2 separate regions of the Homo sapiens genome follow, and region 2 is linked to region 1. Evidence: fine-mapped expression QTL. Tissue or cell type: left ventricle. Region 1 holds a variant in brackets; the other region holds the start of a gene. All regions are shown on one strand. Distances are from middle to middle.

Region 1 (4,239 bases):
GATTCCCTCTTCCTGCACCTGAGCCTGCTGCATTCCAAAGCACCTGCTCATTGCCCCCACTGTCCCCAATTTGGGAGGAGGTCAGGACTGGATTCCTATGTGTTCGAGGGCGGTGGGGGGAACCCATAAAACAACAGTGCATGCACACAGGAAACTGCTCATTTACATTCAGAGAAATAAACAATGACAAGGATGGAATGGTTAGATTTTGCAGACATGAAGTCACAGACAGCCCCGTGACCAATTGCATTTAAGAAATCAGTTTGAAAAAAAAAATGAATTTGATGGGAGCTCAAACCACATAAAATTAATAGTTATTGAAGCAGAAACTAAGTAATCAGAGGCTGTCTCATGCAAATACACTGAAGTTTCCCTGAACTGCATCTCTATAACTAAGCCCGATGGGCCAAACCACACCCTGAACTTGAGGATGAAAGCCAGGCCCTCTATCACACGGTCAGACAAGCCCCTATCTCACCTGAAAGGATCTACACGTAGCCCAGGGAAGAGGCAGTTTTTAGCTAAATGTCCCAACAAAATATTCTTCTGTCTGACCATTAAGGCTCTGAGAACACAGGACTTGCTCAGGAATGCGGGACTCTCTCCCACTGCATTTAATCCTGACACACTGGGCCTGCACAGTGGGCCAGGCAGGCTCCAGTGTGCAGGTTGGGGAGGGGAGGTAGAATTTGTTCTTGTACTAAAAGGCATTTTTAAAAGCCACATTTTTTCTCAAAAGCCATTGAGATCTGAAAGTCCTAGAAGTTCAGCTTTGCCAATAGCAATCTTCTCTGATTTCTGAATGCAATGTCTCAATCACTTCATTCACTTGAGCTTTAATTAACAATAATCCACCAAATCCCACTTCAGCATTATGGTGAAAAAACCTTAGCAGGACATATTTACCAAAATAGAGGCCCTCATAATAGGAAGAATAATAATGCTATATGTATAAGACACTTTAACTCCTAGTTGGCGTTTGTCCCCCTCTGGAGTTCTTAGACTTCACCGTCTATACTAGATCTTAAATAGTGACATTTACCCCCTTGTACGCCATACTCCTTGTTCTGAATTTCTCCACTACTGAATGCGGTCTTACTGGCTGAACATGGGACGTTTGCCTTCTAATTTCTCATTGCTTCCTGATCCCCACTCTCCCGTCCAAAATAATGAATGAATGGATTAAAGATATTAATAACCCTAAACAAAATACAGCTGAAAACATGGAACCAGAAAAAGGAAAGTTAAAGTTTCAGAACAGTCAAAATAAAAATGATATCAAATTGCTTCTCTAAACATACGTGTGTATATCCATATTTATTTAACTTTCATCGAGTTAGATGAAACTAACTGGTTTCATGCTGGTAAAACTATTTTTGTTTGTAATCAATCAAAAATAATACAGGCATATCTGCTTTGTTTAATGCTTTTAAATTGTTGGAAAGATTGTTTCTTTGTAGGATATTGTTCTCCCAAACAAATCAAGGAGTCCTCAGTCATATAGCATATGGTATCCATTGGATAAATAGAAACTCATGGTTAAAAAAAAAAAAAGGTACATTTAAAAAGTTGTACTTAAGTATAAATTAGGCATCATTACTTTTTTTTTTTTTTTTTTCAAAATGTAGGGCTACTTTTCCTTTGTAAATTCTATAAAGCAAATCTTCCCAAGTACAGGATTTCGGGTGAATACTATTCAATATCCAGAAACTAAAGTCCCAAACGTTGCACGGGAAGCTCGTGGCAGGTAAGCCCCGTGGACACAGGACTGTGGCCGGGAAGGCCCCATCTAGAGCCGCCCGAGGTGCACTCAGAGCCGGCACACTATTCGAATTGTCTGAAACAAGCACAGCTTTGACAAGCCTC[A/G]CGATATTAAGTTTCTTCCTTTGCGAAGGATGCAGAGCAAAGCAGTCAACAGCCCTCCCTCCACACCTGGCTTTGGCCTGGGACTCTTCCTCCCAGTCCCCAGCCAAGTTCCCTTTCAGGATTAAGAAAATACACCAAATGAGGGAGCCAATGACAGCCTGTAAGGCAGGACAAATCCTCAGCTCTCATCGTGACTTCTCAAAGCAAACTTGCTCCGCGGAGGGGAGAGGGAAAATCATTTACTTTAAGGTGCTATAGAAAACTGGTCATCGGGACTGTGGGGAGTCTCCCTGAACCTGGAAGCTCCCAGGTTGAAACCAAAACTTCCAGGAGCTCCCATCATTACCTGTCCTGTGGGCACTGGGTCTTCTTGGGTAACCTTCCCCAGCTTGCCCTACACCGGAGCTGCCAGCAAATAAAAGTTTTCACGCTGGGCGACATCGCTACCCTGCTGAGCTGCATGTAAACTTTCCCTTGCCCTTCTGATGTACTTACTTTTTTCTCAGTGAAAACAAACAAAAATCAAAGGGAACTCACTGCTTCCAAATGAGTTTGTGTCACCGTCCCACCTAGCCATCCAGAGACCCTCTGACCTTCCTGTGACAGTCTAAGAAAGGCAACGTTTTCCTCTCGGCCACACAGGGATGCTTTAGAGTGCGGAAAACCAGGATGAAAGAACAGGCATGGGGAGATATTTTTATCCATTGAGAGAGAGAGAGAGAGAGAGAGAGAGAGAGAGAGAGAGAGAAAGGGGACAGAAAAGGACCCGCAGAGTCTGGGGAGGAGAAAGGGAGAAGTTGGGTTACTCACATGCTTGGGGCTGGCGTGGAGGACGAGGACTGGGCTGGGGTGGAATGTGCGGCCCCTCAGGTGCTTTCAGTTGCTGATAACTCGTTGCTCCGCTCCTCCGGTACCAGCTGACAGTCCCCTGTCTGTGTCTCTTTGTGACTAAGGACACAGTACTCCCAACCTATAAATAGATCCCGACTCCGTGATTGATATAACAGGCAGCTGACAAAAAAAAAAAAAAAAAAAAAAAAGTCTCACAACCATAACCAGGTCTTAAACAAAACAGCAAAAAGCTCTAGACTTCCAACTCCACCCAGCCCCATGCAGACTCCACAGCCACTGATGGACGCAGGAAAGTGTGGAAGAAAAATACACCATGAAGGGGAGGAGGAACTGGGGGAGGGCAAGTGAAAAGGGGGGATGTGTAAGACAATGACTTCTCTAGTGGTGTGCGGCCGTCACTTGGGGTCACAGGGGAGCTGGTGACTGATGGTCGGCAGAAAGCAAGGGGAGGAGCCAGGGCAGGAGGTCCTGACCTGGAGAAGGAGAGCCGCCCCCCTCCGGATCCTGAGCCCGTGGCCCTGTCAGGGCCCGAGTCAAAGTCCTGACTTGGGAGCATTCGTCAGCTCAAGTGCTTTCCACGAAAGTTTCCATTCCTCCTGCCAAATTAGGAGGCAGGGAGGGAATTCAGCTTTCCCAGCTCAGGGGCCAGGCAGGCTTCTTGGGGGCCATGCAGAAGGCTCCTGGAGGGTGAGAGAGGAAGTGCAGTTGCCTGGTGAGGCCAGGTCTTTGAAGAGGCCAAGAGATGGCGTTCCCAACAGAAGAACGGCCTGAAGTTGAAAGGCCCTGGGGGTGTTAATGTCTCTGCTTTCTCCAGAAAGATTTAGGACGTCAAGTCGTCTGAAAAGATTTCCTTTTTGGAGAACAAGCCCCGCTCTTTGGGGTACCGGAGGGTCTCTAAGAAGCACTGCCTGTCCCAGTTTCTACAAAGTTGGGGCCGCCTCTCTGGGATAGGCCAGTCCAGCTCTGAAAGCTGAGCCAAGGGGCTGTTTCTGGAAGTTGGAAGAATCATGGTGAAACGGCACAAGTATGGGCTGTTCAACAATTAACCAGGTGAGCATGCATTACCCCAGGGGGCTTCCCATCTGCCATCTGGAGACCCACTTGCTTTGACTACACAGGGTCACCTGTCTTGATTTTCTGGATTTCTTGTGCATGCTAAATGAGGCAGAATTTCAGGTGAGTTTCCCCTTCAAGAGGGGTCATAGGATGAACCCCTTGCTGGTATGGATAAGGGACAGGTACTTCATAATCCCTAAAACTTCCTGATCCCCAATTTTTAAAAGAAATGAAGTTGAACCTCCTCTTCATGTTAGATCTAATCCTTTACTCTCCAGGTTATCAGAAACTATGAGGATGGGGTGGTATCTAAGCTGTTGAAGTCAAAAACCTATTAAACGTGTAGGGCCTCCAATCTTTCCACCAGTAGCCTGCCATTGCAATATGAGCTCCAAGAAGGTAAAGACTATGTGTTTGTCTCATTCATCATCACATCCCCATAATACCTGATCTGTAGCAAGACCC
Region 2 (4,239 bases), 64 kb before region 1:
TTCCTGGGACCCCACATGATCCAGAGTATTTATTTTAGAGATGTAGTCGTGGTTCTTGGGGGGAGGGGGAGAGCGAGTGGTACACAAATGAAAGCACGGTGGAACTGGAGAAACGCTGACTTGGAGAATTTAGTTTGCGTCAGAAAAAAAAGAGGAAGACGAGCACAAAGTTAAGCAGGAAAGCTGTCCGTAAGAACCTAGAGTTTTATGTATTATTATTATTAAGCCTTCCGAGGGACCACTTTGCACGCGCACACAACCTGCCTCCGGGACACCCGCCGGGGGCGCCGTGGGGTGCGCAGCGCCCAAGGGGAGACCCGGGCAGGTACCCGAGCAGGTGGAGCGGCGACCGTGGAGGGTGTCGGGAGGGAAACCGTAGGTGGATAGAGTGGGATCCCCGAGAGCCCGGACATGACACGCGGGTTGACCACCCGCTGCTTAGGCGATCAGTTCACTTTCCCACTCTGCGCTCTTGGCGCGCTGCCCCGGGGCTGGAGACCCGCGGTTTCTGAGAGTCGCTTCTCGCGGCGCCGGCTGCCGCCCGCGCCCACGCCGCTCGGATAACCCCAGGTTCTGGCACCGCGAGCGCAAAGCCGCCTCGGAGCAGGGAAATGGTGCCCTTCTGTTCCGCTGGTCACAGCCTCCCCCAAAGCCGAGAACGAACTTTGCCTACGACGCAGCGCTGGGCCCGCATCCCCCGGGCGCCCTGGATCCGCCGCGCCACGTGCGCACCCTCGGGGCGCCCCACGGAGACCGCGAGGCGAGAGCGGCACTGGCCGCCTGCAGTTTCCAAACCGCCGCGGCACGTTCGATTTTCTCTCTCTTGCCGGGATCATTTTTGGTCCCCAGGATGGAAATAATAAAACAAAGCGCCCGCGGGAAAGGCTTTCTCTGACGGGACAGGACATCCTTGCAACCACATCCCTGCACCTGTTCTGGGCTTCTGCCTCCCTTCTTGCTCCATTCCACAAAAACTCAAATATTTTCTCACCCCGGAGCAAGATCAGAGAGGAGAGAGAAAGGGAGAAAGTGCATGAGAAAGCGCCACTCTTGCCTGAAAGTGTGGATTTGTAAAAGGGGGTGCGGGAAAAAGTTAGAGGAGGGTTTATGCCCTAGAAAGAAACCCAGAAGTGTGCGGCTTTTCCCCTCCTTCGTCCCCCAAGTGCCCCCCCGAAGTCCCTTCCACTTTTACACAAGAATGTGCAGAAAAGGAACTGCGATCCCCAGGACAGAGACTGCCAGACGGGCAGAAGGACAGACAGACCGAGAAGCAGGGCACCTACTGGTTGTGGTAGCCGAGGGGGTCCGGGATGCAGAGTTCGGACACGTCCATCAGTCCCGTTTTAGCATTCCCAGTTGGTAGAGAAAGACGGCGGGGAAATCACGCGGAAGAGCGAGTGAAGGGCACGGGCAAGGTGCGAGCCCGGGCAGGGCACAGTGAGCGCGAGAACGCAGAGTGGGAGGAGGCGGCCGCGGCGGGGGAGAGGGAGGCAGAGAGCCGTGCGCGCACAGCCCAGCTCTCCACTCATCCGCACGCTCCGGAGAGAGCGGGCAGAGGGGATGCGAAGCCGTGGAGGAGGCTGGGGCACAAGAGACTTGGAGCCCACTAACCCTACTGTAGCTTTAAGGCTGGGAGACTGATGTATAGTTTGGCTCCTATTGGCTATCTCTCAGGGGCTGGACTTAAAGTGACAGAATCAAGCTGGGGTGGGGGGAGGGGGTGAGACAGAGAGACTTCATGGAATGAGACGCTCAGCGCGCGAGGTCCCCACCTCCTGAGCAGTAGGAGTACTGGGTGTTAGAGCCCTAAGGCCTGCCTTCTCGCAGTTAAAGGGGGGTGGGGGGGAATGTCCAACCGCCAGGTGGGTCTGGGGTGGGGGGAGATTTATTGCTTACATACCCCCCGGGCCACCCCTATCCCATCTTTTAACTGGCAGGTCTAGCAAACTCACCTCTCAGCCTTTCTGGAATGGATCTGTTTTCCAAATTAAAAATGAGTCACATTTCTCCACCCACGCACCAAAGAGAAGAGGCAGCCTCAAACCCTGCGCTGTGTGCGCAAAAGTGCAAAGGGTCAGGCCAGCAGGTGAGGCACAGCAAGAAGGCAGGAGAGAAACAGATTCCCTTCCCAGTTCTCATCACCTGGGCCAGTCAGTTCTGCACCACTCTCATATGGCTAGATGCAGGGTGCGCATCTATAAAACGTTCTCTCAATGTATGAAGTGATGCTCTAGTCATTGGCAGCTCTCTGAAATGTACCCAGGACACAGACATGAGCAAATAAATTCCTGTCTGCTTAGGAAAATACAATCGTGGTGAAAATGATCAACTTACCCGCCACATCCACTCCAAGGCACAAGTACACACTTTGAAATACACACCTGAATCCCCAGCTACAAACGCACCTGCATCCCCGTCCGCTGCTCCCTCAGTGAACCCGAATATTATGGGATGCCACTGTACCAAAATGAGCTGTAAGTCATGCCCCAGCCCTGCTTCTGGGTTTTTCATCTTTTGAGATGCACCAGCCACAGGGATAATAATCAATTTGATGATTCAAATGAGTGTGGGGAGGGGGGTAGGTATAGAATTATTTAAAAGGGGGGAAAAGCCCTCAGGAGACACCACCACCTTATTCTCCTATATTCTGCAGAAGACAATGAGCAGTAGGGGGGAAGACATAATTTTATCATCAAAATAATGTCTAAATGGAGTGTAACTGCAGGCAATGTTCAAGCACTTCAGGAATAAAGGCAGGGAGGGTTGTGAGAAACCCCAGGAGGGGCCAGCCGCCTGGGCAGGGGCTGGGAGAGTGGGCAGAAGGATCGCAGATGATTTTTGACTTGGATAAATGTGCTCGTGCAGGTTGGGAAACAGAGCTGAGATTTTTCATATGTGCTGAAGTGGAGGAACAAGTGGGATTCTCTGGGCGCAAGGCTCAGGAAGGCATCTCACAGAGAGATGGATGAAGATGTCTCCTCTGTCAGTAGCCCCCCAGCAGCCCCCGATTTTTAAAAATCACATAGGTACTTCATCAGAGACAGAAAGAGGGGTGCAGGGATGCTTCCCTTGAGCCTGGCTTCTATATGACCATCATCTCTCACCAGGACCTCAGTGACTGGTTTTTCGGCATCCTTTCTGCCCTGCTGAAATCCATTCTCCAGGCACACAGCAGCCAGGGAGCGATTTGTAAAATGCACATCCAATGTCCCGTTGTTGCAATTAGGAAAAAGGCCCCAGTCCTTGGCCTCCAAGGAAGGCATCCTATGACAGCTTCCTGCAGGTCCCTCTGTTCCTCTCCACAGCCCCTGCTGCTTTCCCTCTGGGCCCCAGTCTTTACATCTGCCACCTAGAAGGCCCCACCTTCCATATAGTGCCAGAATCTTCTGTGGTTCCTTTGCTTTGGGTAGTTTATCACAGTTTGCAATTGTCTGTGTACTGGCATGAGTGATAATTCCCTCCTCCACCCTTCCCTCACTAGACTGTAAGCTCCATGGGAGTAGGGACCATGTCTCTTTTTGTTCACCAGAGAATCTCTAGCATCTAAAGTTGCCTGATACATAACAGTTGCTTGATGAAGATTTTGCTGAATGAATGGTTAACCTGTAGGAGTTTGGAGTGGGGTGCCACAGCCTGCTGAGTGACAGGCCGCTGCCCAGGAAGAAGGTGAGGCAGTGATGGGTTGTCTGGGGCCCCTTGACTCCTTACTCTGTGTGGGTGCACCGTTTTTAACTGGAAACAAGACACACTTGGTAGAAATAAGGTCCTCTTCATGGTCTGAAAAGAAAGACCACATCACAGCCCAGAGCAATGGATTCAAAGCCACTGGGAGCAAATGAGGAGAAAGTGGGGTCTGCATTGGTTAGAACACTAGGCTAATGCTTGCCTACTATTATTCTCTGCCTCTAAGGTTCAGGCATGAAGGTGAACCAGAGCCTTATCTCTGGGCACTAGCTGATTGTCCTCCAGGCAGGAATGAACTCCTAGAGACCTAGGCCTTCTCAGCCTTCCTCTGCCTGAGCCTCCTCTCACACAGCCCTGGGGCCAAGTTCTTTCTCATTTCCTTTCTGACTCTGCAAGAGGAGAGATGAGGGCCAGCCGCCGGGACACCCTAGTGGCATGATCCAACTTGGCAGGCCCAGGCTCCTCCTGTGATTCTCCAGACAAACTTGCCTAGGTCCCACACTGTGCATGGGGCCCACATTTTTCCCATTCTGCCCTCAGCCAACTCACGGAGGA

Alleles and levels. Alleles are on the strand shown, and positions count from the first base shown. SD is a standard deviation of normalised expression in the study named.
For the expression in left ventricle of the gene that starts at base 1,598 in region 2, allele G in region 1 goes with a lower level than allele A (small effect, 0.27 SD a copy in GTEx).

The links. PIP is the estimated chance that this variant, and not a neighbour inherited with it, causes the effect.
Region 2: ESRRB starts here. The variant in region 1 is fine-mapped to the expression of ESRRB in left ventricle (GTEx, PIP above 0.99). The same link has a PIP of 0.9 or more in atrial appendage.

What each region holds. Positions count from the first base shown.
Region 1 is chr14:76,309,354-76,313,592 of GRCh38, reverse strand. It overlaps LOC105370575 (a long non-coding RNA gene), which reads left to right and starts at 3,174. Exons shown (of 4, transcript XR_001750833.3): 1 at 3,174-3,768. It also overlaps a transcript of ESRRB not described here. RefSeq lists an enhancer at 3,158-3,771. The variant A/G (reference allele first, on the strand shown) is at 1,867.
Region 2 is chr14:76,373,496-76,377,734 of GRCh38, reverse strand. It overlaps ESRRB (estrogen related receptor beta), which reads right to left and starts at 1,598. Exons shown (of 7, transcript NM_001379180.1): 1 at 1,284-1,598. The coding sequence starts at 1,333.